Linked DNA regions of Homo sapiens. The protein of the gene in region 3 purifies or fractionates together with the protein of the main gene of each other region. This does not show direct contact. Each region holds a gene or a part of one and is shown on either strand. Other genes may lie near its edges. The genes, in order: ORC4, ATP6V1A, LAMP1, PI4K2A, DNM3, PLAA and FKBP10.

Region 1 (3,950 bases), on a different chromosome or scaffold from region 3:
AATCTTTTGTGCATTGTCTTTTTAAATCTTTTTGGGAGGTTTTTTTGTTTGTTTGTTTTTTGTTTTAATTGGGTTGTCTGTTTTACTCAGGGATTTCTAGCAGTATGGCCAATATCTTCTCTGTGCTTGGAGCATTACTCTCTTCTGGGATGGCAACTTTTATCTTCATGTAGGTCTTATAGGCTGTCATTGTTCTTTGAATTGTATACGTAGTTTAAACTCCAGATAACAAGTTCTATGCTTGTGCTATTCATTGCAGTAGCTACTAGCTGCGTGTGGCTTTTGAGCACTTGAAATGTGGCTAGTATGACTGAGGAACTGAATTTTTAGTTTTATTTAGTGTTCAATTAAGTTTAAAAACTGACACTTGATTCAGTTACTGTAAAACCTGTATGTTTGGAACAACTCGGATACATAAACCTTTCTTAACCGCAAATTATTAAATTATTATTTTTTAATTTTTGGAGATTTTTTCCCCCCTGGAGATGGAGTCTCGCTCTGTTGCCCAGGCTGGAGTCCAGTGGCATGATCTTGGCTCACTGCAACCTCCGCCTCCCAAGTTCAAGTGATTCTCCTGCCTCAGCCTCCCTAGTAGCTGGGATTACAAGCATGTGCCACCACACCTGGCTAATGTTTTTATTTCTAGTAGAGGCAAAGTTTCACCATTTTGGCTAGGCTGGTCTCAAACTCCTGACCTCAAGTGATCCACCCACCTTGGGCTTCCAAAGTGATGGGATCACAGACGTGAGCCACTGCACCCGGCATTAGCTGCAAATTATATAAAAATATAGATCAAGTATTTTATATGGCAGTTTTAATTTAGCATCTGCATTGTAATGTTGTATAAACACCATATTTCAAAGACAGTATGAAAACAATGTAAAATACCTCAGCTTTTCATTATGATTACATGTTGAAATTATAATTGATTTCACCTTGTTTTCTTTTAGTGTGAACAATAGAAAATTTTAAATTACTTATGTCACTTTTACTGTATTGCTGCTGGACAGTACTTTGAGCTAGATGTTCCTATGTGTTTACCATGTCTTAATTTCTTCCTGCGTCTCTGACTTTTCTTTTGGAATCTTTTAACTTTTACTTTAGCACACTCAGTAGAAGTTTCATAATGCAGACATTCTGATGGTCAGTTCTCTTAATTTTTTTGCTTTGTCTTAATTTTTTGTTTTGCCTTCAATCTTGAAGAATGTTTTGGGGGATATTACAGATTTGTGGTTGTTTTACTTGTACCTTGAAGATAACATTTCACTGTTTTTGGTTTTCATTATTGATTTTGAGAAATCAGCTGTCAATGCATTAGGTTGGTACAAAAGAAATTGTGGTTTGGGACAGCGAATTTTAAATCATTATAACGAGGCTCTAACATATCTTTATTAATTAAAATAGGTCATTACAATCAACACATTTTTGCCGACAAGAAATAAGTTTGTTTTTTCCTGTAATGTAAAAATCCATGCTTCAGGATTCCACAAACTCTTGGAAAGCTTTTTCCTGCATCCTGCTGGTTGTGGAAGCATTTTCCCTGAAAAAAGTTGTAGAGATGCTTGAAGGAGTGGTAGTCAGTTGAGAGGTCAGGTGAATATGGCAGATGAGGCAAAACTTTGTAGCCCAGTTCGTTCAACTTTTGAAGTGTTGGTTGTGCAGTGTGCGGTTGGGTGTTACTGTGGAGAATTGGGCCCTTTCTGTTGACCCATGCTGGCTGCAGGCATCACAGTTTTAAGTGCATCTCATTGATTTGCTGAGCATACTTCTCAGATGTAATGGTTTCTCCAGGATTCAGAAAGCTGTAGTGGATCAGACCGGCAGCAGACCAGCAAACAGTTACCATGGCCTTTTTTGGTGCAAGTTTGGCTTTGGGAAGTGCTTTGGAGCTTCTTCGCGGTCCAGCCACTGAGCTGGTCATTGCTTGTCATATAAAATCTAGTTTTTGTTGCACCTCACAGTCCGATTGAGAAATGGTTCGTTGTTGTGGAGAATAAGAGAAGACAACACTTCAAAACGGTGTTTTTTTAAATTTTTGCTCAGCTGGTGAGGCACCCACTTATCGAGCTTTTTCACCTTTTCAATTTGCTTCAAATACTGAACAACTGTGGAATGGTTGACGTTGAGTTCTTACGTTGAGTTCTTCAGCAACTTCTCATGTAATTGTAAGAGGATCAATCTGCTTCAATGATTGCTCTCAATTGGTTGTTGTCAACTTCCAGTGGCCTGCCACTACACTCCTCATCCTCAAGGCTCTGGTATCTTTTGCAAAACTTCTTGAACCACCACTGCACTGTACGTTCATTAGCAGTTCCTGGGCCAAATGCATTGTTGATATTGCAAGTTGTCTCTGCTGTTTTACGACCCACTTTGAACTTAAATAAGAAAATCACTCAACTTTGCTTTTTGTCTAGCATCATTTCCATAGTCCAAAATAAATATAAACAGCAAGTAATAAGTCATTAGCCAAAAAAAAAAAGCAAGAAATGCCCATTAAAATGACATATAACATAACCACATTTATTTAAGAATGTATTCCAGGCCGGGTGTGGTGGCTCACACCTGTAATCCCAGCACTTTGGGAGGCTGAGGTGGGCGGATCACGAGGTCAGGAGATCGATACCATCCTGGCTAACATGGTGAGACCCTGTCTCTACTAAAAATACAAAAAATTAGCCAGGCGTGGTGGCGGGTGCCTGTAGTCCCAGCTACTCAGAAGGCTGAGGCAGGAGAATGGTGTGAACCCTGGAGGCAGAGCTTGCAGTGAGCCGAGATCGCGCCACTGCAGCCCAGCCTGGGCAACAGAGAGAGACTCCATCTCAAAAAAAAAAAAAAAAAAAAAAAAATTCCAATATCAAATGGCAAATTCCAACAATGCAAAAACCACAATTAATTTTGTACCAACCTAATAATTCATGCTGCTTTGAAGGAAATCTCTCTTTTAGAATTTTTTTTTGTTTGTTTCTTTTTTTGGTTGTAATTTTTCTGCTGTTTCACTCTAATCTTTTTGTGTGGAATTCTTTTCTTCTTTTTTTTTTTTCTCCTAGTCAAGTGTGGTTGTGGGGGTAGAGGAAATGTTCAATCATCGTGTGGCATTCTTTATCTTGCCCTGTATTCATCGAGATTATTAGATCAATGCATCAGTATCTTTTTAAAGATATTGGTGATATTCTTACTGTTTCTGGTTACCTGCTGAAAATTACAATCTTGCTTTTATTGGCCTAGTATAGTTGCTCCTTAGTATCTGCTGGAAATTGGTTTCAGAACCCCGTGCAGATACCACAATCCACAGGCAGCTCAAATTCCTTATATAACATGCCATCATGTTTGCATACGGCCTACACACATCCTCCCACGTATTTTAAATAATCTCTAGATTGCTTATGGTACCTAATACAATGTAGATGCTATGTAAATATTGTTATACTGTCATGGCTTTTTAAAAATTTCTATTATTTTTTATAGTCGTGTTTTTAAAAATATACATGTATTTTTAATCCTTGGTTGAGTGAATCTGTGGCTATGAAGGGCCGACTATATTCATAGTTCATTTGTTGTTTGTTGAAGATAATTCCAGTTTCTAAATTTTCTAAGTCTGTGTCTGCTAGCTTATGATATTTTTTTCTTGTGTGCCTTGAGTACCAGTTGTATTTAAAAAATTATAGGAATATATGAGTCCTAGAATAATAGTATCTTTTTTAAGAAGGTACATTTTTCTAGGAAAGGTCTCTAGGAGTGCTTTCAGTCCCAAGTCACTATTCATGTTCAAGAGTTGGGATTCCTTCTGTTATACACATGACATTAAGGAAGACTTTAAGATCATGAATTCTATTTTCCTTCAATTTCCTCTTATCCTAATGATGTTGTCCTTAAACTCTGAACATAAATTGGGTAGTTTATCTGAGTCCCCAGCTTTGTTAGGCAATGTGCTTTTATTTTTATTTTTGATT
Region 2 (3,950 bases), on a different chromosome or scaffold from region 3:
TCACGGTAAAAAGAAAGTGAAGATTCGTGATCACTACATAAAGCCATACTTTTTTCTTAGAGCGTTTCCTCCTTGCTTCATCTATTTGATTAGAATAATAAAATTGATTATAATAAAATATCTATCTCATGTCTCATAATAGAAGGTGTTCTGTAGTTTCTATTGTTGTTTACAACTTAAATACTGGCTTTTGTTTAAGATTTTTAGGTAAGATTTTCTTTCCAAAGGTCATTTCTAAAGTTATTTACATTAAAAAGTTATTTACATTAAAATCGACTTTAAAAAAAGTTAACATTTATATATATGTTATTTTTCATAAGCATTTCTAATGACCATTTTTTTTGTAATGACCATATTTTTTTTAAATTTAGAGTTTCTCCACCTGGTGGTGATTTTTCTGATCCAGTTACATCTGCCACTCTTGGTATCGTTCAGGTATGTCTTTCCCTAGTATAGTCAACTTCTGAGCCTTTCCTCCTCTCTGCAGCCCCTGCTGTTCTAATGCGATCTAATGTAATCGTTGTGAAGTATTTAATTTAGTCTCTAAAGGATAGGCAATGGTAAAGTCTGGTTTAGAAACACTCTTAACACAGAGCCTTTAATACTGTCTGTTTTTTTCTTAGCTGTTTACATAGGATTTATAATAAACTTAATAATATATAAGTGGAAAATATAGGTAGCAAAAATTTTATTAGTATTAGAGTAGTATTATCCTTTAAGTCATAGTAACCCTAGTTATAGAAACAAAGAGGCCCAAAAATGTGTAATACCCAGAAGTTATTTCACTTCACAGTATGATCCAAGGCTCTCTTCTGTTTAGTGATAATTCTGAGTCCAGGATTCTTTCCATCTTGTGACTCCACTGTCACCTAGCCTGGTGATCATCTGCATCTAGCTGACACAAGGGAGCTGGGCCTTGTGGAGAAGGCATACCCACCTTTTTTGAACCTTGGATTCAAAAGTGACACAGTCACTCCACTCATTCTATTAGCCACATCCAGGTGAAAGCAAGGCTGGAAAATGCAGTTTCTGCCTAAGCATTTGCTTTCCAGTGACAAGACATGAATTTTAGTGGATAGGTAGCCAGCTTGGCTATTAAAAGAAGCCCAAATAAAAGATGTGTACAAATCAGAGCTATAGTTAAAAAAAAAAAGTGATATGTGTATATTATTCATGTGGGAAAAACAGAATATTTACTTGTGTTTCTGACAGTATCAGAGAAAAGGAAATGTCAGAGGCTAAATGTACAACTCTCAAGCTTTTTAACGTTTGCTAAAATTTTGAGTTTTAAATTATGGGGAAAGAGGGAACAGAGTTAGAAATGCATGGAATATCTGTGAATGTTTGCCCTTACAAAAATCACTGTCAGTTGTTGTTGGATTGGCCCTGTGAATGATAGGCAACTAAATTTAATCAAAACACTTAGATGTTTTTGTTTTGTTTGTTTTGATACGGAGTTTCACTCTTGTTGCCCAGGCTGGAGTGCAATGGCACAAACTTAGCTCACTGCAACCTCCACCTCCCGGGTTCAAGTGATTCTCCTGCCTCAGCCTCCCAAGTAGGTGGGATTATAGGCACCCGCCACCACACCTGGCTAATTTTTTGTGTTTTTAATAGAGACAATATTTCACTATGTTGGCCAGGCTGGTCTTGAACTCCTGACCTCAGGTGATCCACCCGCCTCAGCCTCCCAAAGTGCAGGGATTACAAGCGTGAGCCACCATGCCTGGCCCAGAACAGTTAAAAAAAAAATTTTTTTTTTTTTGAGATGGAATCTCACCCCCATCATGCAGGCTGGAGTGCAGTGGCGTGATCTCAGCTCACTGCAACCTTCATCTTCCGGGTTCAAGCAATTCTTCCTCCTCAGCCTCCCAAGTAAGCTGGCATTACAGGCATGCGCCACCACCACGCCCGGATAATTTTTGTATTTTAGTACAGACAGGGTTTTGCCATGTTGGCCAGGCTGGTCTCGAACTCCTGACCTCAGGTGATCCACCTGCCTCAGCCTCCCAGAGTGCTAGGATTACAGGCGTGAGCCACCATGCCTGGCCAGTTAGAGGTTTTTAATCAAAGTAAAGTGTGTATTCGATCTACATAAACCTTTTCTGGTTCTATTGTACCATAATAATTTTCAAAAGAGTAAATTAATTTTTCTTTTTGCTTTTGGATTTGGCACAGTATTAAGAAAATAGAGGTAAATTTTAAATTCGATTTGTAGGTATTATGCACTTGGAAAATGAAAGGAAATAGATTATTGTCATTTTCTGCAAGTTTTATTCTGTTTTAATTTTACTTAGTATATACTAAAACGATGTATAATTTGACCAGTGAATTGTAGAATTGCATATTTAGGGGTCAGGCATGGTGGCTCATGCCTGTAATTCCAGCACTTTGGGAGGCCAGGGATCACATGAGGTCAGGAGTTCGAGACAAGCCTAGCCAACATGGTGAAACCCCATCTCTACTAAAAGTACAAAAATTAGCCGGGCCTGATGGCGCATGCTTGTAATCCCAGCTACTGGTGAGGCTGAGTCAGGAGAATTGTTTGAACCCATGAGGTGGAGGTTGTAGTGAGCCGAGATCATGCCACTGCACTCCAGCCTGGGTGACAGAGCAAGCCTCTGTCTCAAAAACAAAAAAAAAAGAATTGCATAGTTGGGACAAACATGCTTCGGTATTTTTTAACTTTGTTTTTTGAGAAAAATTACTGTTTTTGTGTGTGTGTTTTTTTTAATCAGGTGTTCTGGGGCTTAGATAAGAAACTAGCTCAACGTAAGCATTTCCCCTCTGTCAATTGGCTCATCAGCTACAGCAAGTATATGCGTGCCTTGGATGAATACTATGACAAACACTTCACAGAGTTCGTTCCTCTGAGGACGAAAGCTAAGGAAATTCTGCAGGAAGAAGAAGACCTGGCAGAAATTGTACAGCTTGTGGGAAAGGTGAGTTGTTAAATTCCATGGAAGATAGATCTGTGGGTTACACTGGGGTGTTTCAAGGACAGATAGAGCCTTGGATATTACAGATTCTTGCCTAGCAAAATAAATATTTATTAAATATTTTTAATTGAAATTTTCTATTCATTATAGTACTTAGCATGGTTTTTGGGTATATTGTATGTGAGAAAGAAACATTTGATTTACTTTTATCTTGAAATGGAATATACCCATCACCAACCAAATTAGAGGTAGTAGATTTAGGATTTGTTAGCATACATTTTTGTAGGAATGCTAGGGCTAGGTTTCAGAAGGATTGGCTTCTAGTTCCTCCAATAATTAGCTATTGGCCTTAAACAGGTGAGTTACATTCTTGTGCCTGTATCTTGGATTCTTCAAGGAAAGATGGTGTAATTAAATTTAGGCAAATTAAATGCCAGAATGAAAAGACTTCTCAGATAGTATGCAATGCTAGTTAGTACTCAGAGTTCTTTGTCTGGTTTTGTTCTTTTTATTACATGTTACAAAGTCATCTCCTAATTTATTCCAAAAAAGGTTAATATTAGGAGATAGCTAACATTCTAACATGTATTACTACTTACTATTTATAGAATAAAAATATTCTCTTATCTGCCCAATAAGAGAAGCAAGAAACAGGAAGAACTGCAAAACCAGATAAAGACAATACAAGAAAGGAAAACTATAGGCTAATATTGTTGATGAATGTAGGTATGAATGTAGATACTTAATAAAATATTAAATATTAGTGTATGAGGTCTAGTAGGATATTAAAGAAAATAAAATGATACATCATAAGCAAGTTTATCTCAGGAATGTCCATATTAGACACAGAAAATCTATTGTAATTCACTAATGTAATAATACAATGGAAAAAGGATATCTCAGTTAATGTGGAAAAATATTTGAAGTTTATTACAATTTTTAGAAACATCTTAGCAAACAAGGAATAGAACGGAACTTCCTTAATGTGTTAAAAGTAATATACTAAGACCT
Region 3 (3,950 bases):
TTAGGAGGTTTGAACAATTTTATACTCGGCTGGGTGCAGTGGTTCACGCCTGTAATCTCAGCACTTTGGGAGGCCCAGGTGGGCGGATCAGCTGAAGTCAGGGGTTTGAGACCAGCCTGGCCAATGTGGTGAAACCCCGTCTCTACTAAGAATACAAAAATTAGCCAGGCGTGGTGTGGTGGCAGGCGCCTGTAATTCCAGCTACGTGGGAGGCTGAGGCAGGAGAATTGCTTGAACCTGGGAGGCAGGGGTTGCAGGGAGCTGAGATCGTGCCATTGCACTCCAGCCTGGGCAACAAAATCGAAACTCAATGTCAAAAAAAAAAAAAAAAAAAGAAAAAGAAAAGAAAGAAAAGCTGGGTGTGGTGGCTCATGCCTGTAATCCCAGCACTTTGGGAGGCTGAGGCAGGCCGATCACTAGGTCAAGAGATCGAGACCATCCTGGCCACAACATGGTGAAACTCCATCTCTATTCTTTTTAAAAATATTTTTAAAAAGTTAGCCAGGCGTAGTGGCACAGGCCTGTAGTCCCAGTTACTCAGGAGGCTGAGGCAGGAGAACTGCTTGAACCCGGAAGGTGGAGGTTGCAGTGAGCCGAGATCGTGCCACTGCTCTTCAGGGCAACAGAGCGAGACTCCATCTCAAAAAAACAAAGAAAAAAATTTTTTTTCTACTAACCGATGTTACCTTTGATTGTGCAGATTGTCAGTTATGCGGTGGAAAGAATGAATTTGTCAGCAGATTTGAGGTCAGAATGTCTTTGTAGCCCTGTAATTTTGAATTTGTATTGCATTAGCCCCATCCCAGACAACGTTACCCTTTCTTCTCTGTACCCAAGACTTTTATTGCATGTGCTTCTACATGGTAACATCTGTTCGGCTGCACTGGGATTATTTTTGCCTGTGTATCTCCCTTCCTTAACTGACAGGTAGTAAGTGCTGAGTACATATATGAAGAAAGGATCAATTTTATAGCAGTGGCTCTCAACCAAACATATGCACGGATCCACACGATCAGCTTTTTAGAAATATACATACCACAGCGAGGCACAGTGGCTCATGCCTGTCATCTCAGTGCTTTGAGGCTAAGGCAGGAGGATTGCTTGAGATCAGCCTGGGCAACATGGCGAGACCAGTGTCTCTACAAAAAAAATTAAAAAGAAATATACGGCCGGGCACGGTGGCTGTCACGTGTAATCCTAACACTTTGGGAGGCCGAGGTGGGTGGATTGCCTGAGCTCAGGAGTTCGAGACCAGCCTGGGCAATATGGTGAAATCCCATCTCTACTAAAATACAAAAAAAATTAGTCGGGCATGGTGGCGTACCCCTGTAGTCATAGCTACTTGGAAGGCTGAGGTAGGAGAATTGCTTGAGCCCGGGAGGCGGAGGTTGCAGTGAGCGAAGATCATGCTACTGGACTCCAGCCTGGGTGACAGAGTGAGACTCTGTTTCCATTTAAAAAAAAAAAAAAAAAATATATATATATATATATATATATATATATATATATATATATATATATTTACACACACACACACTTATACCTTGCCTCTAGAGGTTGTGATTCAGTGCCTGGGATGGTATTTTTTTCCTTTAGTTCTTCATAAATGATTGTGCATCATTGGTTAAGTAGAATAAAAATACCATATTTAAAAGAATCAAGCCAAGAAAAACTAAGATGTGATTTCTTTTTTTTTTTTTTTTTTTTTTGAGACGGAGTCTCGCTCTGTCGCCCAGGCTGGAGTGCAGTGGTGCGATCTCGGCTCACTGCAAGCTCCGCCTCCCAGGTTCACGCCATTCTCCTGCCTCAGCCTCCCGAGTACCAGGGATTACAGGCATGCGCCACCATGCCCGGCTAATTTTGTATTTTTAGTGGTGACAGGGTTTCTCCATGTTTGGTCAGGCTGGTCTCAAACGCCTAACCTCAGGTGATCTGCCCACCTCGGCCTCCCAAAGTGCTGGGATTACAGGCGGTAGCCACCACACCCAGCCTAAGATGTAATTTCTTAATAAATTGTTTTTTCTTCTTTTTTTGAGACAGTCTCTTTATGTTGTCCAGTCTGGAGTGCAGTGGCACGATCTCAGCTCACTGCAACCTCCACCTCCCGGGTTCAAGTGATTCTTCTGCCTCAGCCTCCCGAGTAGCTGAGACTACAGGCATGCGCCACCATGCCCGTCTAATTTTTGTATATATTTTTTAGTAGAGACGGGGTTTCACCATGCTAGCTAGGCTAGTCTCAAACTCCTGACCTCAGGTGATCCGCCTGCCTCAGCCTCCCAAAGTGCTGGGATTACAGGCTGGGATTACGGGCTGTGCCCGGCCTAATTTTTTAAAATGAAGTTTTTTACTCATTTCTTCAGATGGTAATCTTTAATGTCAAAAGCGAGTATTTCTTAATTTTTATTTATTTTAATTCAAAAAAATTAAATTTTTTTTTTAAGAGACAAGGTCTTGCTGTGTTGACCAGCCTGGTCTGGAACTCCTAACCTCAAGCAGTCCTCCGCTTCCTCAGCCTCCCAAAGTGCTGAGATTACAGGCATGAGCCACTGCACCCAGCCAGTGTTTCCTCATTGGAAGCCCGTTCCCTCAGTCATCAAGTGCTGGAGAGGCAGCGTGGCTCAGAAGTGGCACGTCCTGTGAGTCAGAAGACCCCTTCTAGATCTAGGTCTCCGCCACTCACTAGCTGTGTGACCTGGGTGGGTTAGTTGACCTCTCTATGCCTTAATCTCCCTATGAAGAGTTGTCATGATAACTGGGATGTGCTTAGAGCAGCACCTGGCACAAAGTAAGTGCATTCCAAGTGCTTGTTAAATGAGATAGTTTTTGATGTTTTGTGTCAGATACTGAGGATTGAATGATGAACTTGATGGGAACCCTCTGTACCTGTGCAGATGTTTAATAACAGCTGACATCAAAGCTGGCGTCAGTGCCGGGCACCAAATGCTCAGCTGCTCCGACAGCCCTGAGGCCTTGGCACTCTCTCCTCCTGCTCGTGGGTGCAGAGACTGGGGATTGGGCTCTGCTACTGGCCATGGTTGCACAGCTAGTAAGTGCTGCAAGAACCTCCAAGAACTGAGGGCTGTGACTCAGAAGCACGCATGCTTCCCACAGCGGCACTTGTTTCAGAGAACAGAATTTCTCCCAAGTGGGGGTATTTTGAAGCCACAGTTACTCCTTTATGTGATCCCTGGAGAAGTGGTCCTGTTCGTGTCTGAGTACAGGACTGCCGGAGATAGCAGTCACCAGTAGGCCAGGGTGCCCACCTTGGAGATGCTGCCAACGGCTGTCCTGTTGGGCTGTGACACCTGTCAGGTTACTGGAAACATTGTAACTTACTTGAGGTTTTTTGTCTTTTTTTTTTTTTGCTACCCAGTTGCCACTGTTGTGGAGGTTTTTAAAAAAACTTCTGACCCTTATAGCATACATACATTTCCTCCTCAAGCTCTGTGTGCTGATGCTCTTATTTTCTTCTATACCAAAATTGCCTTCTGAGGGTAAGTTTATTTTAATAACTCAAAATTCCTGGGTCTCTCCAGAGTAATACAGGCATCTTGTGCTGCCAAAGCTTACTTTAAATTTATTTAAATGATATTTCTTTGTTTTCCTCTGAAAGCTGAGACCTGGCTGGGCATGGTGGCTTACACCCATAATCCCAGCACTTTGTGAGGCTGAGGCAGGTGGATCACTTGAGGCGAGGAGTTGGAGACCAGCCTGGCCAACATGGCAAAACCCTGTCTACCCCGTCTCTACTAAAAATACAAAAAGTAGCCAGACATGGTGGTACAAACCTGTAGTCCCAGCTACTCAGGAGGCTGAGGCACGAGAATCGCTTGAACCTGGGAGGTGGAGGGCTACTGCACTCCAGCCTGGGCAAGAGTGAGACTCAGTCTCTAAAAAATAAAAATAAAAAAGCTGAAACCCTCAGCATATTTACTAAGTGAAAAAAAAAT
Region 4 (3,950 bases), on a different chromosome or scaffold from region 3:
ACCTGAGAGGCAAAATAACTGCCTCTCATCTATCGCTCCATGCTACCATCTAGTATTAATAGACTACCTAAAATGGATGTGCATGGTACTGTAGTAGGCACTCCCTGCCTTACAAATCAGAAAACTCAGGCATAGGAATGAAGGAAAAAGAGCTTTCCTAAGGCTACCTTGCCAGTGTCCACAGTGAAACTCCTGGCTCTCTCAAGCCATAAATCCCCTTTTGCCCCCATCATATTTATTTTCTATCATTCTTCCTAACAAACCACTTTTTCCCCATGACTAATGAAACTATCATAACCTGAAACCTCATAGGAGCAGAGAGCAGAGACAGCCAGTGAGTGAGAATTAGAGCCTTACCATTTGAAGTTCCAATGCAATGTGAACCTTGTTTCTATAATGACAGATGCTCTGATCAACTGGATAGAGTCCTGTCACAAGAGTTGGGGAGACAGGGAGAGGAGTCCTCTTACTATTCTCCAGCAGCTATATGTTAAGCTTCCAAAGTTCTGTCTCATCTCAGTCTCATGGAAGACAAGTATTTTTTTTTTTTGAGACGGAGTCTCGCTCTGTTGCCCAGGATAGAGTGTGGTGGCACAATCTCAGCTCACTGCAACCTCTGCCTTCCAGGTTCAAGCGATTCTCCTGCCTCAGCCTCCCAAGTAGCTGGGATTACAGGCACGCACCACCATGCTCAGCTAAGTTTTGTATTTTTAGTAGAGACAGGGTTTCACCCTGTTGGCCAGGCTGGTCTCGAACTCCTGACCTGAGGTGATCCACCCACTTAGGCCTCCCAAAGTGCTGGGATTACAGGCGTGAGCCAATGAGCCCAGCCAAGACAAGTATTTTTGTTGTTGCTGACTTTCTGATGCAAAAGATCCTCAGGCCTCGTGAAGGTTCTCTAACAGGGAAAGAGGAAGACCAAAGATAGGGACGAAAGGGATTGTGGGGGTGACACTAACGATTAGAATAGCTGATAAAAATATCACAGGCTAACATATGGAGGGTTTACGTTGTGCCTGGCACTCACTCAGCTATGTGCTTCATATAGGCTGTCTTGTGTAATATTGATGGCCACTCTACAAAGTAGGAACTATTTATATCCCTATTTTTACAGTAAGGAAACTGAGCCTAGGGAGGTTACATGACTTGCCCAAGTGTTACACAAATCAAAAACTGCAGAGCAAGAATTCAAACTCAAGTCCTCTGATTCTTGGGCACCACACTCCAGAAGCACCAACAGAGCAGGTAGGCATAGAGCCAGACACGGTCTGCTATTTGCCTAGTAAAGGAAGAAAACTATAGAGTGATAAGCAAGGAGAATGTAAAAGTTTCTAGAGTCTAAGAGGAGCCTAGTAGAAGCATTTCAGGTTAGGAGACTTAAGAACATTAATTATCATACAAGATGTTCAAAGCATGCTGTAAAACTATCTGCACAGAGAGGGAAAAGTAAGGCATAAAGAGAAGGAATGAGCTGTACAAAGCCAGGCAGTGAATTAGATGTGAAATGGGAACTAGAAGCCTGGTCAAACATTTTCTCGCTAGACCTAAAGTTGGAAGAACTTTGGTATTGTTTCTCATGATTTCATATTCATTTACTGACTCAGCTGGTACTTCATGAATGCTTACTATAAATATAGTATTTTGCTAGGTGCTGAGAATGAGAGAGGAAATCTTGAGAAGTGGTCTCTGACTTCTATAACTTACAAACTAGTTGGCTAATTGTTTGGAGTTTAGTAGCAAAGGAGCAGACATGGTTAAATATCCACAATAGTCACATTTTCCTCTCAAACGGAAGGGAAGTTTCTACTGCTGATCAATCTCTTTGCTCATAGAATCTGCTATCTAAACCTGAGAAGACATCTTTAAGGCTGGGTGTGGTGGCTCACACTTGTAATCCCAGCACTTTGGGAGGCCAAGGCAGGAGGATAGCTTGAGCCCAGGAGTTCAAGACCAGCCTGGGCAAAACAGGGAGACCTTGTCTCTACAAAAAATTAAAAAAAAAAAAAATTAGCCAGGCATGGTGGCACATGCCCGTAGTCCCAACCTGAGAGGCTGAGGTGGGAGGACTGCTTGAGCCTGGGAGGTCAAGGCTGCAGTGAGTTGTGATCATGCCACTGCACCCCAGCCTGGGCAACAGAGCAAGACCCTGTCTCTAAAAATAAGAAAGAAAAGAAAACTTTAAGCAGAGGGATTTTAATCTAGAGACATGCTCCCTGGGGTGTCAACAGATAGACTGCAACGTTTATGAACCATTGCCCTAAAATTATACACAAAACAATAATTGCAAATATATGTACTTTTTCTGGAAAGGGGGTCTATAGGTTTCATCAGATTCTCAAAGAGTTATTTACTAAATAACTAAATAAATTTAGTTTTAGTTATTTAGTAAATAACTAAATAAACTAGCATAGACTAGTTAAGACTAAGCACGGAGCCAGGATTGTTTAGATGACTCAGCAGCCTCAGGGCATCAGATGAGAGTCCCACCTAAGTTGTTACTAAACCCCAGGTAGCCACGTACTCAGTGAATGATGTGTCCGGACATGTTCATATGCTGACCAGTAGATTCCTTCCCCTCATAACCTTTGGTGAGTTTCATGGAATACCTTGTAGTGCAGGGGTTCTTAGCCTGGTGTCAGTAAACTCCCTCAAATTGTATGCAATCAATTCTGTATTCAAGCATATTGGTGGGGGTGGGGGTTGGGGGAGACCTCAACTATGTCTATAACACATACAAGATGTGTATGAATCCATTCTGAGTGTGAGTTTGCCTAGATCTGGCACCCCTATTTTGATGTGTTCAGACAAGTCCCAAAATTCGACAGCATAAAGATAAGTTAGAAATATTCCATGTCAGTTCCCTGTAGGGTTCAGGCCAGACCATTGTTCTAACCCTCAGCCTGTCCTAAAGTCTTCCTTGTCAGACCCTGCAGAAGTTCTTAGCTGTCATCAGCCAGTCCTAGACTGTATCGAAATGCTGGGATGGCTCAGAAGTCTGAGAGTAAGCCACAAAGTCACTAGGTTTCTAACTAGCTTGGGGTTAGCTGGGATTCAAAGACCAAGGGAGCCATAAACATGCAGTAGAAGTTTGTGAATTTCCTAAAATTGTATGCAAAAATTGTGTGTGTATCCTTCAAAAGATAGCCTTCATCAGGTGATCAAATCATAAGCCTAATCCTGCCATCCTCCCGAAAAAAGATCGAGAACCCAGACTTAGGGTATAAATGACCCCACTGGACCCAAGGTCCCACTAACATGTAGCAGGGCTTAGGCCCCAGGAAAACTGTGGCCAGGCAGTAAGGCTTCCTGGAGATGGGTCACTGACCTTTGTACGGGGAACAATGTTGAGTTCCAGTTTTTGGTCCACCAGGCTGGCCCCTGCTTCTGAGAGATAGCCCTGGTTAAGGACAAGGCAGTCACGGCCAAAGCAGCAAGGACAGCACAGCTTCTGCAGCCACTTGGTCCACTTAGGATTAAGATGCCCATAGGGCTCTTCATTCTTGGGTTTGAAGACAGCAATGATCCTCTACAGAGACCAAAGAAAAAGAGGATGTTAAATCCGAGTTGACCAAAATAGCCCACAGACCAAGTCAGCAGGAATCTGGAAAGAAATGACAGGGCATAGGCAGACAATTCCTACTTACAGTTGGACTCAGGTTTCTCCCAGTTGGTAAGGGGAAGACACCAGCTCGTGTGTGCAGCTAAGAGACCCACTGCTAGAAAGGGTTGTGGCCAAAGAACATCTTAAGTCTTCTCTTTCTTCCTTGCTCCTTTTTCCCTCTTCTCCATCTCTTTTCCCTCATATAAGTACCTACCTCTAACTTTGTGCTTCAAACAAACAAGGTAAATGGATTGCTACATTTCTAGGAGCAAGACACAGAAGCAGGCCAGGTACAAGGGTTCATGCCTGTAATCCCAGCACTTTGGGAGGCCAAGGCGGGTGGATAATT
Region 5 (3,950 bases), on a different chromosome or scaffold from region 3:
CTCTATCATCCTTCAGTGTGGACAGCCAAAAGACAGAGGGAAACTGTTACTGTCACCAGTACTGGGGATAGAGACAAAACAAAAGTAAACAGACGCTTGGTGCTTCACTTTTCCCAGGGTGGACTTTGGTGGACTTTGGTGGACTTTGTCCAGACTCTGACTGCCACAGCCATGTTTCTACCTCCACTCAGTCACTCATTTATTCCCATTTTTATTTCTCTGTGGTGATCTGACAGGTTAAAGATTTCATAAATTCCGAGCTCCTAGCACAGTTGTATTCTTCAGAGGACCAAAATACCCTGATGGAGGAATCTGCTGAGCAGGCTCAGCGCCGGGATGAGATGCTTCGAATGTATCAAGCACTGAAAGAAGCCCTTGGGATAATTGGGGACATCAGCACAGCCACCGTGTCCACTCCGGCACCCCCTCCAGTGGATGACTCCTGGATACAGCACTCTCGCAGGTAAGAAGATGGCCCCGGCCGGGTGCGGTGGCTCGCTCCTGTAATCCCAGCACTTTGAGAGGCCGAGGCGGGCGGATCACGAGGTCAGGAGATCGAGACCATCCTGGCGAACATAGTGAAACCCTGTCTCTACTAAAAACATAAAAAAAATTAGCCGGGCGTGGTGGCGGGTGCCTGTAGTCCCAGCTACTCGGGAGGCTGAGGCAGGAGAATGGTGTGAACCCGGGAGGCAGAGCTTGCAGTGAGCCGAGATCGTGCACTGCACTCCAGCCTGGGTGACAGAGCAAGACTCCGTCTCAAAAAAAAAAAAGAAGATGGACCCACCCACAACCCCTGAGCCCTGCCACGCTTGTCCAATATCATTTTCTGAGAGTGCTTTCCTAAACCAAGATGGACCTACAGAAAAAGGGGAAAAGATATTTACATTCAGGAGTAAGGATCAGATTATACTAACTCCCTTAAAAATGCAGCACAGTGCATCCTCACAATGGAATGTTATATAGTCACTAAAAAGAACAAGACAGTTCTATTAAGTCCTAAAATGAAAAGATAATCCAGTTAACGGGAAGCTTTAAAAAAAAGGGAGGTTGTATGCCAGGCGCGGTGGCTCACGCCTGTATTCCCAGCACTTTGGGAGGCCGAGGCAAGCGGATCACCTAAGGTCAGGAGTTTGAGACCAGGCTGGCCAACATAGTGAAACCCTGTCCCTACTAAAAATACAAAAATTAGCTGGGGGTGGTGGCGCACACCTGTGATCCCAGCTACTCGGGAGGCTGAGGCAGGAGAATCGCTTGAATTCAGGAGTCAGAGGTTGCAGTGAGCCGAGATCACGCCACTGCACTCCAGCCTGGGTGACAGAGCGAGACTCCGCCTCAAAGAAAAAAAAAAGGAGGTTGTAGAAGACTGTGTTCTATGGTATACAGAAAAGCAATTTATATATAGAGAGAGAAAATATATACTTATACAAATGTAGAATACAGTTAAAAAGGATGCACAAGAAACTTCTATAGTTGTTTCAACAGAGTGAAGGGGTAGGGAGAGGAAAACTTACTTTTCTCCATTTACCCTTTTATCCCTTTGACTTTCATGACATGAATTGGACTTATTCAGTCAAAAAATAATTTTTAAAAAGCAGGAAGTTACAAAACATTTTTAGAGATTAATTCAGACAGAAAGGAGGAGTGAGCAAACTATGATTTCTCTTTTTCCTCAGGTCACCTCCTCCAAGCCCCACAACCCAAAGGAGGCCAACACTAAGTGCTCCCCTCGCAAGGCCCACATCCGGCCGAGGACCAGCTCCTGCCATTCCCTCTCCTGGCCCCCACTCTGGGGCTCCTCCAGTCCCATTCCGTCCAGGCCCATTACCTCCTTTCCCCAGCAGCAGTGACTCCTTCGGAGCCCCTCCACAAGTTCCATCTAGGCCTACGAGGGCCCCGCCCAGTGTCCCAAGGTAAGGCATGGAGCAGAAATTGGGGGGGTAGTGCGCCTTGGTTCTCTTCTCATAGAATGACAGACAAAATTTATTTGAAAGAGAAAATTGCAAAGATCTTATCGTACGTGTTTGCAGTTTTCACAATGAACAGAGACTATAGGAAAATTGCCAACCCTGTTATGCCATTTAAAAATCACTTGTGATCATTGAAATTTCTCATTTATCAATTGGCACAGACTAAATAGGACTAAAGAACACTCCGTCCCAATGAATGACATTTTGGCAGCTATTGGGAGAATTTGAGGGCTTTGAAACAAAAGAGCTATGGAGGATTGTAGCAAGCTGTGTGTTCTATAGGTCATGAGAGTTCCATGGACTAAAGTCTTGCCTTCTCCATTATCAAAAGAATTCTTGAAAACCACTGACTTAGAGAATTTTATCCATCTGCCTTCTGAACTGTGATCCTTATACTCAATTTTACCAATTTTCATATAGGCTGAATAAATCTGGCTGATTGATCTGCAATTGTTTTTTTAAAAACTACACATAGAAATTTTAATATAGGCATGATTGTTGTATACAGTCACTAATCATATATAAGATAGATCATTGTACATCTGAATAATACGTGTTGACAATTATAAGTGGATTTTCAGGCTTAATTGTGAAACAATATAGCTAATAAATAATGGACCTAGAAACACACATAGTTGGAGCTGTAGTCTCACCTTCATATACTTACAGTCAAAATATACACAATGAATAGAATCAGAGATTTTTAAGGTATAAAGTACTAAGGTTTTTTTCCCCCTCAAAATCAGAAATATAAAGAGGAAAGAAAATTAGCCCATATATAAAGTTAATTTTTAAAAAATTCAATTCAGAGAATTAAAATATTTATATACTCCATGAAGGAATATCTGACTGTATATGAACCATAAAAACAGATGTGACTTCTACCCATCCCTGAAGCCTGAGCCACCTTGCCAACTGATTATGGCACTTACGTTTTATTTTAATCTTCAAGTTGTTAAGCGTAATGAAGAGAAGAGAAGAAGGGGGATCTTAAGCTAGTACACAGAGGGTGGTACAGCAAGAATAGGCAGGAGATTTGCAGTCAGAAGACCTGGGTTACTGAAGGTCTTGGGCAACTCATTTAACTCTGAGACGGGAGTTCTTTATCTATGAAACAGGGAGAACTCAATAAGGTTGTTCCCCAGATCATATGACATGAGGTATTTGAAAGAGTTTGATACACTGTAAAGACTACAGTTGTTACCACTGTTATCATTTTGGTCCTAAGCAAAGAGGATATATACACACTCTCAATCCAATTTTTTTTCTCTAAATTCAATAGACTTGGCTTATAAATTATTTGGAATGGTGCTAAATTTCTAGTAATAGCAGTACTAGCAATAGCCAACATTTATTGTGCCCTCAATATTACTAGGCATTGCCCTAAGAACTTTGTATATACATTTTTGTTTAAAGCTCACAACAAATAGGTTGTTATCCACATTTTACAGATGAGGCAGTGAGGTTAAACAGCTTGCCCAAGGCTGCTCAGCCAGTCCCTAGTGGAGCTGGACTTTAATCCCATGCAGTCTGCTTCCAAAGCCATTTCCTGACCATGACCCCAGGGTTTTTCAGCCTCATCAGTACTGACGTTTTTGTTGTGGAGGGCTGTCCTGTGTATTGTAAGATGTTTAGCAGCATCCCTCCCCTCTACCCTCTAGATTTCAGTTGCAGTCCCCAGTTGTGACCACTAAAAATATCTGTAGACACTCCCAATGTCCCTTAGGGGAGTAAAATTCCTCTCCACGTGAGAACCACTGCACTGTAGTATTCAAAAGAATTCCCTTCCATGTAAAACCATGAATTTCCGCATTGAGCCTTGCTACAAGCAAGATCCAATTTATTATTTTAGAAAACCTCAAATTGACTAGGAAAGTGTCTGCCATTGTACCAGGAAGGTATTGAGGCCATTGGAAGAGGAAGAGTTGAGAGTGGGAAGGCTGGAGTGCCATGCAGGAGCTACTTTTGTCTGTCTAGCTG
Region 6 (4,596 bases), on a different chromosome or scaffold from region 3:
AACAGAGGGAGATGAATCTAGTAAAACAGATTAGGGAGATTGTGTGAAAGGCCCTATGTAATGCTGTACTATAAGAATGGAAAGCCGGCCAGGCGTGGTGGCTCACGCTTATAATCCAGCACTTTGGAAGGCAGAGGAGGGCAGATTATGAGGTCAAGAGATTGAGACTATCCTGGCCAACATGGTGAAACTCGTTTCTACTAAAAACACAAAATTTAGCTGGGCATGGTGGCGCGCTCCTGTAGTCCCAGCTACTCGGGAGGCTGAGGCAGGAATCGCTTGAACCCGGGAGGCGAGGGTTGCAGTGAGCCGAGATCGCGCCACTGCACTCAGCCTGGCAGCAGAGCGACACTCCGTCTCAAAAAAAAAAAAAAAAAAAAAAAAAAAAAAAAAAAAAAAATAATGGAAAGCCATCACAGGTTGTCAAACAGAGAAAAAACAATTAAGTGTATATTTCAGAAAGATAATTATATTTTAATGTGTAGGATTGGCTGGAGAGAAGGGGTAGAAAGGCCAGAGAAATGTTGAAATAATTTAAGTAGGACTAATTGGTACAGATTTCTAACAGATAGCTAGAAATACAGATCTAGAGTTTGGAGAAGACAATATGGGAATACAGCTCTAGAAATAAGCCAAGTAGTAAATAATCCACCCAGGGAGGGGATATGATAGCAAAGAAGTATCAAAAGTCAGCATTTCAAGAATGATCTCCCAAACCAGGGGAAAAGTGATTCCAAACCTAGAGTAGGAGTTTTAGGAAGGGAGAAGTCAGAAAAGTGTGAATTGGGCTTAGCAATTTAGAAAGGTTTGTGGAAAAGTGTAGTTGGATGCGAGAGAATAGCGGATGGGAAGAAAACAAAGTAAGGAGACAGGTCATGTTTACCCTGGCACTCAATAAGGTCTGATAATGACTAGCAAGTAGCACCACGGGTGGGTGGGCGGCGGGGTTGTTAAAAATACGTATCTCAGCTCTAACTCAGACCTACTGAATCAGAATCTACATTTTAACAAGCCGCCAGAGAAAAGTAGTTATACCTTTAAAAAATTGACTTGGACCACCGTATTTGCTAAATTTGACAACAGAGAGTAGGAGATTCAGATAACTTGAAACGGAGGAATAGTTCAATGATTAATAGTTCCCAATTTGGCCTCAAGCTTTCTCGTTTTAATTGAAAAACAAGGTTAACTTGCAAAAACCTCGAGATTCTCAGGGAAAAGCAGTGAGGATGACCTAACAGTAGACACCAAACAACCTCACTCAGCCATTCCGCCATGCCCAGCGCGAAAGACTCAGGTTTAAAATATCCGGATTCGGCGCGCCGGATGTCCACGCCAGCTGGCGCGGCATTATGGGAATTGTAGTCCCGGCCCGCTTCCCGATTTACCACAAACTGTTGGGCCCGGAGTCGGAAGAGACCCGGGTTTGGGAAGGACCCCAGGGTCAGGCGTCCTGGTGGAAGGGCGGGCCTCTTTCTCTCTTGCTCAGCAGGGAGTCCAGAGCCCTGGAGGAAAGCCAGCTCAGCTCCGCATCGGCGTCGGCGGTTGGGACGCACACACTCTGCGTCATGGAGGGCTGAGGCCGATGATGAATTCCGGAGTGCCTGTCAGGCTTGCTGTGTCACTCGGCCCGCTCGGCGCGCCCCTTCCCAGCCGCCCTTCCGTACCGGCTCTCGGGCTCTTCCGGTCTCCGGCCGCCCCTTACCTGCAGGCTCTTCTCCCGCCGCGGCCCGGCGCTCTCCGAGTCGCCCCTGCGGACTGGTCTCGCACAGTGCCTGGGCACCGGGCGCCAGACAGACACTGGCCATGACGAGCGGCGCAACCAGGTACCGGCTGAGCTGCTCGCTCCGGGGCCACGAGCTGGACGTACGGGGCCTGGTGTGCTGCGCCTATCCGCCGGGAGCCTTTGTGTCCGTGTCCCGAGACCGCACCACCCGCCTCTGGGCCCCAGACAGGTGAGCGCTGGGAGTCGGGTTGCCCCGGCTGTGTTGCACGCTTCCCGGAGAGTGGAAGGAGAGTGACCCTTCCCTGTCAGTCCTGCCGTCTCTCTCTCCCCCCAGCCTTCCCTCTGCTCTCCGCTCCCTTCCAATTCTCAGACTATTAGAACTCTGTAAGAAACCATCGGGATTTAAGTGGAAAGAGCACAGGGTTGGGGGACCAAAGACCTGCCTTGTTGTGCTAACTTGACCACAGACGAGTCTCCTACCTTTTGGGCCTTCAGTTTTTGGACGATGATCTCCCAAGTTTCTTTTAGACTTGAAAATTTACTGATTGCAGTTGCACCCTCCGAAGTGAGGTAGTTTGAAGGCATCTGAAATGTCCTCTTTTTTTTTTTTTTTCGAAGAAGATGCTCTGTAGTCTTCTGTAAAATTTAATTTTTGAAGACTTTAGTTCTCAAAAATTGCACTGGTGAATCCTCTTTTCGTCCAGGTTAGAATTTTAGTCTGTGGTCTGTGCTGGTCCTGAGGGAGTGAAACCTCTCGGATGTTTTGTTTCTGTGCATGTGCTGTTTCTTGAGGAGAAGCAGCATCCATTGCCTTCAAAGGATTTATCAGAAGGGTTCACGAACCAAAAAAAAAAAGAAGAAAAAGGTTAGGAATCAGTCCTGATCGAGTTCACGGGTTCAGCCCTGATTTGGCTGGTTGTAACAGGATATTTAAGACCTAGAAGACAGATTGCAGTTCAGAGAAAGAAAAATTGAGGTTAGTTATTTTGTTATTTAGTAGGTCTCCCACTGCTAGAGATTTTAGAATTTGAGTCACCATCCATAAATTCAGTTGATAACTGTTGAGTGCCTCCTCTTTGTTTGGGATACTGGAGAGGAATAAAGACAGACAAGTTGCCAGTGTTTCTGGAGCTTTCTTACAGTCTGATGGGGAAGATAGATTAAAAAACAAGCCAATAAATAATTAAAAACTGGCATGTGAAGAAAACATACAGTTAATTAGGTGGAGAGATATATTAAAGGAAGCCTCTCTGAGGAGTTGTTTGTTTAAAGTTGACATTTGAAGCATGAGATGGATGGAGCTGGTCGTGGAAGAGCAAATAGGGAGGATTGAATTGGAAGAGCATTCCAGGCAGCTGGAGGAGCAAACAGGAGGGAATTAGCTGTGAGGTGAGGGCAGGTTTTGAGGCTGGCAAGAGCCAGGTTATGGAGTTTGCAGATGGAAGCCTTCAAATAGTTTCAAGCAGGGAGCAACATGATCTGATTTCCGTGTTGAGAAGTTTCTGCTAGCTGATGGTAGAGAATAGATTGAGAAGGGATAAGTGTAGAAGTGGGTTTGCTTGGAGGCTTTTGAAGTAGTATAATCAACACAAGATGGTCCACTAGGCTAGGGATAGTATAGAGCAAATTCCTGTATTGAATTGAATGAGATGATCTCTAAAGATCTAACTCTAAAATTCTATAATATCCAAAACTACTTAGTAATACTAATATGGAACTTTTTGTTTGAGTACAGTTATTAAGTTTTTGCCTTTAAAATTGAATCCAGTAGAAGCATAAGCCCAGTAGAATATAACCATTGCAGTAAGGAGTATAATCAAGGATGCCTGTTTTAATAATGGAATCCTGTCATTAAACTTTTGGGACTGTACTAGTTTGACAAGGGTTTAATCACTGGAGTGGTTGTGCTTACCAGGAACTTGAAGAACTTTGGGCTGAACTGATTCTCTATTTGAAAAGTGATTTTGTTGTTCATTGAACTATTGATTTTTTTTTTTTGAGACAGAGTTTTGCTCTTGTTGCCCAGGCTGGAGTGCAATGGCACAATCTTGGCTCACTGCAACCTCCGCCTCCGGGGTTCAAGCGATTCTCTTGCCTCAGCCTCCCAAGAAGCTGTGATTACAGGCATGTGCCACCATGCCCGGCTAATTTTGTATTTTTAGTAGAGATGGGGTTTCTCCATGTTGGTCAGGCTGGTCTTGAACTCCTGACCTCAGGTGATCTGCCCACCTTGGCCTCCCAGTGTTGGGATTACAGGCGTGAGCCACCACGCCTGGCCGAACTCATGATTTTTTTGTTTTTGTTTTTCAAAATTCATTCCTGTATGTATTTATCTAACACTGATGAAGAACTTGCATTTTGCCACAGTGTGTGTTAGTGCGTAGTGAGATAAGATTATTTAGTCTCTCATATCCTGCTGGTTAGGTTAGCAAGCTTGTCCATCCTGTGGCCCATGGGTGGCTGTAAGAGTGGCCCAACACAAATTTCATAAACTTTCTTAAAACATTATGAGGCTTTTTTTGTGATTTTTTTAAAAATGCTCATCAGCTATTGTAATTATTAGTGTATTTTATGCGTGGCCAAAGACAATTTTTCTTCCAATGTGGCCCAGGAAAGTCAAAAGATTGGATACCCCAGGGTTAGAGTGTTTCATAGTCATTAGGTGATTAAGCTCTTATTGATGCCAACTGAAGTGTCTCAACCATACCTTTAATGTTGTAAAAGTGTCCTCAAATCTGACATATTGACAATTTTTATTTCATGATACATGTCTTCTCTTTTGTGTTGCTGTAGCAGAATACCACAGACTGGGTAATTTGTAAAGAAAAGAAATGTATTTTTCATAGTTCTGGATGCTGGGAAGTCCATTATCA
Region 7 (3,950 bases), on a different chromosome or scaffold from region 3:
CTCCTGGGTTCACACCATTCTCCTGCCTCAGCCTCCCGATTAGCTGGGACTACAGGCGCCTCCACAATTTTTTTTGTATTTTTAGTAGAGACGGGGTTTCACCATGTTAGCCAGGGTGGTCTCCATCTCCTGACCTCATGATCTGCCCGCCTCGGCCTCCCAAAGTGCTGGGATTACAGGCGTGAGCCACTGCGCTCGGCCAGAAAACTTTCTTAACCCATGGCCCCTTCAATTAAAAAAAAAAAAATCTCCCATCCTCACTTTACTTCTGAAAACTTAAAATAAATTAAAAGTGTATATAATTGGCTGGGCACAGTGGCTCACTCCTGTAATCCCAGCACTTTGGGAGGCCCAGGCAGGCAGATCACTTGAGGCCAAGAGTGACCAGCCTGGGCAACATGGCGAAAGCCCTCTCTACTAAAAATACAAAAATTAGCCAGATATGGTGGTGCATGCCTGTGATCCCAGCTGCTACTTCGGAGGCTGAGGCAGGAGAATCGCTTAAACCCGGGAGGTGGAGGTTGCAGTGAGCTGATTGCACCACTGCACTCCAGCCTGGGTGACAGAGCCGAGACTCCATCTCCAAAAATACATATGTATAAGTAAAAATAAATACATTAATTAAAAGTGTATAACTAAAAACAAACAAAAGCCATGGCACTTTTAGAATAGGCTTTTTTTTTTTTTTTTTTTTTTGAGAGGGAGTCTCACTCTGTCGCCAGGCTGGAGTCCAGTGGCACGATTTCGGCTCATTGCAACCTCCGCCTCCCGGGTTCACGCCATTCTCCTGCCTCAGCCTCCTGAGTAACTGGGACTACAGGCGCCCGCCACCACACCTGGCTAATGTTTTGTATTTTTAGTAAAGACGGGGTTTCACTGTGTTAGCCAGGATTGTAGAATAGGCCTTTTCAAAATGTGAAACCAGCTCCCACCCCACCTCTGCTCTCCCGTCTTTTCTTGGAGAGCCAATAGTATAATGGCAAATTTTAGAACTCAGCTGACTACATATTAGCTGTGTGACCTTGGGCAAGGCACTGAGTCTCTCAAGTCTCCATTGCTCTCATTAAGAAAAATGAGAACAAGAATGCCCACCTCACAGGGGAGACAAAGAAGATACGGAATGTAAAATGCCAAGCATTTAATCCCATATAGTAATGCTCCTCTGCCCCTCCGTGCTGTACGTACCACTCCCCACTTGCTGTCAGCAAATAGTAGCAGCCATCAGGCCCGGGCATCCCACCCAACCCCGTCCCAGGGCAATAGCAGCCCTTGTCCTCCTCAGGGACTTGCCTTTCACAACAGTCCGTTCTCTTAAGGTGGGCGTCACGGCCGACCTAGGAGGGGGACTTGAAAAGGAGGTGAGAAGTGTGTGTGCGTATCCACACCTGGCTATAGGGAGGGGGGATTGTGTGCGTGTGTGCAGGCACACCTGTGCATCTGTGCCACCATGGGCAGTGTGTGTGTGTCTGAGGTCACTGTATCCCATCTGTCCCTCCCCCCCCAGCTATGATCGCAACACCTTGGTGGCCATCGTGGTGGGTGTGGGGCGCCTCATCACTGGCATGGACCGAGGCCTCATGGGCATGTGTGTCAACGAGCGGCGACGCCTCATTGTGCCTCCCCACCTGGGCTATGGGAGCATCGGCCTGGGTGAGAAGGGCTGGGGCACAGGCCGGGGGTGGAGGAGACCACGAGGCAGAATCAGGGATCCTGGGGTGAGAAAACTGAAGTGCGGAGATGAGGAGTGACTTGCCCAATGTCACACTGTGCACGCAGTATGAAGAGTGGCAGCTCTGGCTGGGGCAGTAGCTGACATATATGGTCCCAGAGTTTTGGGAGGCCGAGGTGGGAGGATTGCTTGAACCCAGGAGTTCCAGACCAGCCTAGGCAACATAGTGAGACCTCGTCTCTACAAAAAATAAAATAAATTATCCAGGTGTGGTGGTGTGTGCCTGTAGTCCCAACTACTCAGAAGGCTCAGGTGGGAGGATTGCTTGACCCCGGGAGGCTGCAGTGAGCCATGATCATGCCACTGAATTCCACCCTGTGTGACAGAGCAAAACCCCTCTTTTTTTCTTTTTCTTTTTTTTTTTGAGACAGCATCTCACTCTGTTGCACAGGCTGGAGTTTAGTGGTGCGATCTCGGCTCACTGCAACCTCAGCCTCCTGGGCTCAAGCAGTCCTCCCTCTCAGCCTCCCAAATAGCTGGGACTACAGGTGCACACCACCACACGTGGCTAATTTTTTGTATTTTTAGTAGAGATGGGGTTTCGCCATGTTGCGCAGGCTGGTCTTGAACTCCTGGGCTCAAGCCATCCACCTGCCTTGGCCTCCCACAGTGCTGGGATAACAGGCATGAGCCACTGTGTCTGGCCCCCTATCTCTTAAAAAAAAAAAACAAAAATAGTGGCATCTCTGTCCCTGGTTTGGGTCTCTTGGTGCTGGGATGAGAGGAAGGGGAATAACAGGGCCCTGGCTGGGATCGTGGTTGGCAGAGCAGAACTCTGAGACCTCCACGCTGCTGCGCTCTCACAGCGGGGCTCATTCCACCGGATGCCACCCTCTACTTCGATGTGGTTCTGCTGGATGTGTGGAACAAGGAAGACACCGTGCAGGTGAGCACATTGCTGCGCCCGCCCCACTGCCCCCGCATGGTCCAGGACGGCGACTTTGTCCGCTACCACTACAATGGCACCCTGCTGGACGGCACCTCCTTCGACACCAGGTGAGGGGCTGGAGGGGAGCCCTGAGGCACTGGGGACTGTGGCATGGGGAGCGGGAATCCGGGGCCCAGCCTGCCTCTCCCACCTCCACCTCATTTTCTGCAGCTACAGTAAGGGCGGCACTTATGACACCTACGTCGGCTCTGGTTGGCTGATCAAGGGCATGGACCAGGGGCTGCTGGGCATGTGTCCTGGAGAGAGAAGGAAGATTATCATCCCTCCATTCCTGGCCTATGGCGAGAAAGGCTATGGTGAGGGTGGGCAAGGACACAAGGGGAAATTCCGCAGAAGAGGGAAAAACCAGGCCTCCACATACAGTTGCTCAGGTTGTATACTGCACGAGGGCATCCAACCAAGGACTCAAGGTGGGATGAAATCTACCCTTGGTGCTACTAAGAAGGGGTGCTTTGGCCGGGCGTGGTGGCTCACGCTTGTAATCCCAGCACTTTGGGAAGCCAAGGCGGGAGGATCACGAGGTCAGGAGATCGAGACCACGGTGAAACCCCGTCTCTACTAAAAATACAAAAAAATTAGCCGGGCGTGGTGGGGGCGCCTGTAGTCCCAGCTACTCGGAGAGGCTGAGGCAGGAAAATGACGTGAACCCGGGAGGCGGAGCTTGCAGTGAGCCGAGATCGCGCCACTGCACTCCAGCCTGGGTGACAGAGCGAGACTCTGTCTCAAAAAAAAAAAAAAAAAAAGAAGGGGTGCTTTATTCTGATTCACACGAAGGCTCAGTATGAGCCGGTGGTGGCCCTGGGGAAAACCCAGCTCAGGTCTTACTGGAGGAGCAAGAAGCAGGGCTGCTGATGGGCGGGAAAGGGCTCTGGAGAGTGGGGCTAGTGTCTTGCATGGTGCCCACTGGGCCTTCCTGAGTCAAGAAGGAGCCTCGGCTTGCTCCCCAATTTTATGGTTCAAGCCCTATCCCTTCCCCAGGGACAGTGATCCCCCCACAGGCCTCGCTGGTCTTTCACGTCCTCCTGATTGACGTGCACAACCCGAAGGACGCTGTCCAGCTAGAGACGCTGGAGCTCCCCCCCGGCTGTGTCCGCAGAGCCGGGGCCGGGGACTTCATGCGCTACCACTACAATGGCTCCTTGATGGACGGCACCCTCTTCGATTCCAGGTCAGGAGGGTCTTGAGGTGGGAGGGCGGGGGCTGGGTGAAACGTGGACGAAGCTGGGGGTCACTCTGAGCTGCCTGGAAGGGGAGGGCCCCTTTGACTCCCTT

Evidence for each region.
Region 1: the proteins of LAMP1 (region 3) and ORC4 purify together in Homo sapiens (affinity purification with mass spectrometry; one large-scale study listed by BioGRID and IntAct). This does not show direct contact.
Region 2: the proteins of LAMP1 (region 3) and ATP6V1A purify together in Homo sapiens (co-immunoprecipitation; one large-scale study listed by IntAct). This does not show direct contact.
Region 4: the proteins of LAMP1 (region 3) and PI4K2A purify together in Homo sapiens (affinity purification with mass spectrometry; one large-scale study listed by BioGRID and IntAct). This does not show direct contact.
Region 5: the proteins of LAMP1 (region 3) and DNM3 purify together in Homo sapiens (affinity purification with mass spectrometry; 2 studies listed by BioGRID and IntAct, with this or other methods). This does not show direct contact.
Region 6: the proteins of LAMP1 (region 3) and PLAA purify together in Homo sapiens (affinity purification with mass spectrometry; 2 studies listed by BioGRID and IntAct, with this or other methods). This does not show direct contact.
Region 7: the proteins of LAMP1 (region 3) and FKBP10 purify together in Homo sapiens (affinity purification with mass spectrometry; one large-scale study listed by BioGRID and IntAct). This does not show direct contact.

The regions. Positions count from the first base shown.
Region 1 is NC_000002.12:148,014,204-148,018,153, reverse strand, and holds part of ORC4 (origin recognition complex subunit 4), read left to right. Parts: intron 1-3,950. UniProt on the Homo sapiens protein: Component of the origin recognition complex (ORC) that binds origins of replication. DNA-binding is ATP-dependent. The specific DNA sequences that define origins of replication have not been identified yet.
Region 2 is NC_000003.12:113,795,505-113,799,454, forward strand, and holds part of ATP6V1A (V-type proton ATPase catalytic subunit A), read left to right. Parts: intron 1-371; coding exon 372-435; intron 436-2,738; coding exon 2,739-2,942; intron 2,943-3,950. UniProt on the Homo sapiens protein: Catalytic subunit of the V1 complex of vacuolar(H+)-ATPase (V-ATPase), a multisubunit enzyme composed of a peripheral complex (V1) that hydrolyzes ATP and a membrane integral complex (V0) that translocates protons.
Region 3 is NC_000013.11:113,300,172-113,304,121, forward strand, and holds part of LAMP1 (lysosome-associated membrane glycoprotein 1 precursor), read left to right. Parts: intron 1-3,950. UniProt on the Homo sapiens protein: Lysosomal membrane glycoprotein which plays an important role in lysosome biogenesis, lysosomal pH regulation, autophagy and cholesterol homeostasis.
Region 4 is NC_000010.11:97,650,517-97,654,466, reverse strand, and holds part of PI4K2A (phosphatidylinositol 4-kinase type 2-alpha), read right to left. Parts: intron 3,527-3,950; coding exon 3,326-3,526; intron 1-3,325. UniProt on the Homo sapiens protein: Membrane-bound phosphatidylinositol-4 kinase (PI4-kinase) that catalyzes the phosphorylation of phosphatidylinositol (PI) to phosphatidylinositol 4-phosphate (PI4P), a lipid that plays important roles in endocytosis, Golgi function, protein sorting and membrane trafficking and is required for prolonged survival of neurons.
Region 5 is NC_000001.11:172,386,897-172,390,846, forward strand, and holds part of DNM3 (dynamin-3), read left to right. Parts: intron 1-236; coding exon 237-463; intron 464-1,676; coding exon 1,677-1,913; intron 1,914-3,950. UniProt on the Homo sapiens protein: Microtubule-associated force-producing protein involved in producing microtubule bundles and able to bind and hydrolyze GTP. Most probably involved in vesicular trafficking processes, in particular endocytosis.
Region 6 is NC_000009.12:26,944,253-26,948,848, reverse strand, and holds the start of PLAA (phospholipase A-2-activating protein), read left to right. Parts: upstream 1-1,606; 5' UTR 1,607-1,803; coding exon 1,804-1,952; intron 1,953-4,596. UniProt on the Homo sapiens protein: Plays a role in protein ubiquitination, sorting and degradation through its association with VCP. Involved in ubiquitin-mediated membrane proteins trafficking to late endosomes in an ESCRT-dependent manner, and hence plays a role in synaptic vesicle recycling.
Region 7 is NC_000017.11:41,815,554-41,819,503, forward strand, and holds part of FKBP10 (peptidyl-prolyl cis-trans isomerase FKBP10 precursor), read left to right. Parts: intron 1-1,504; coding exon 1,505-1,650; intron 1,651-2,535; coding exon 2,536-2,725; intron 2,726-2,828; coding exon 2,829-2,974; intron 2,975-3,656; coding exon 3,657-3,846; intron 3,847-3,950. UniProt on the Homo sapiens protein: PPIases accelerate the folding of proteins during protein synthesis.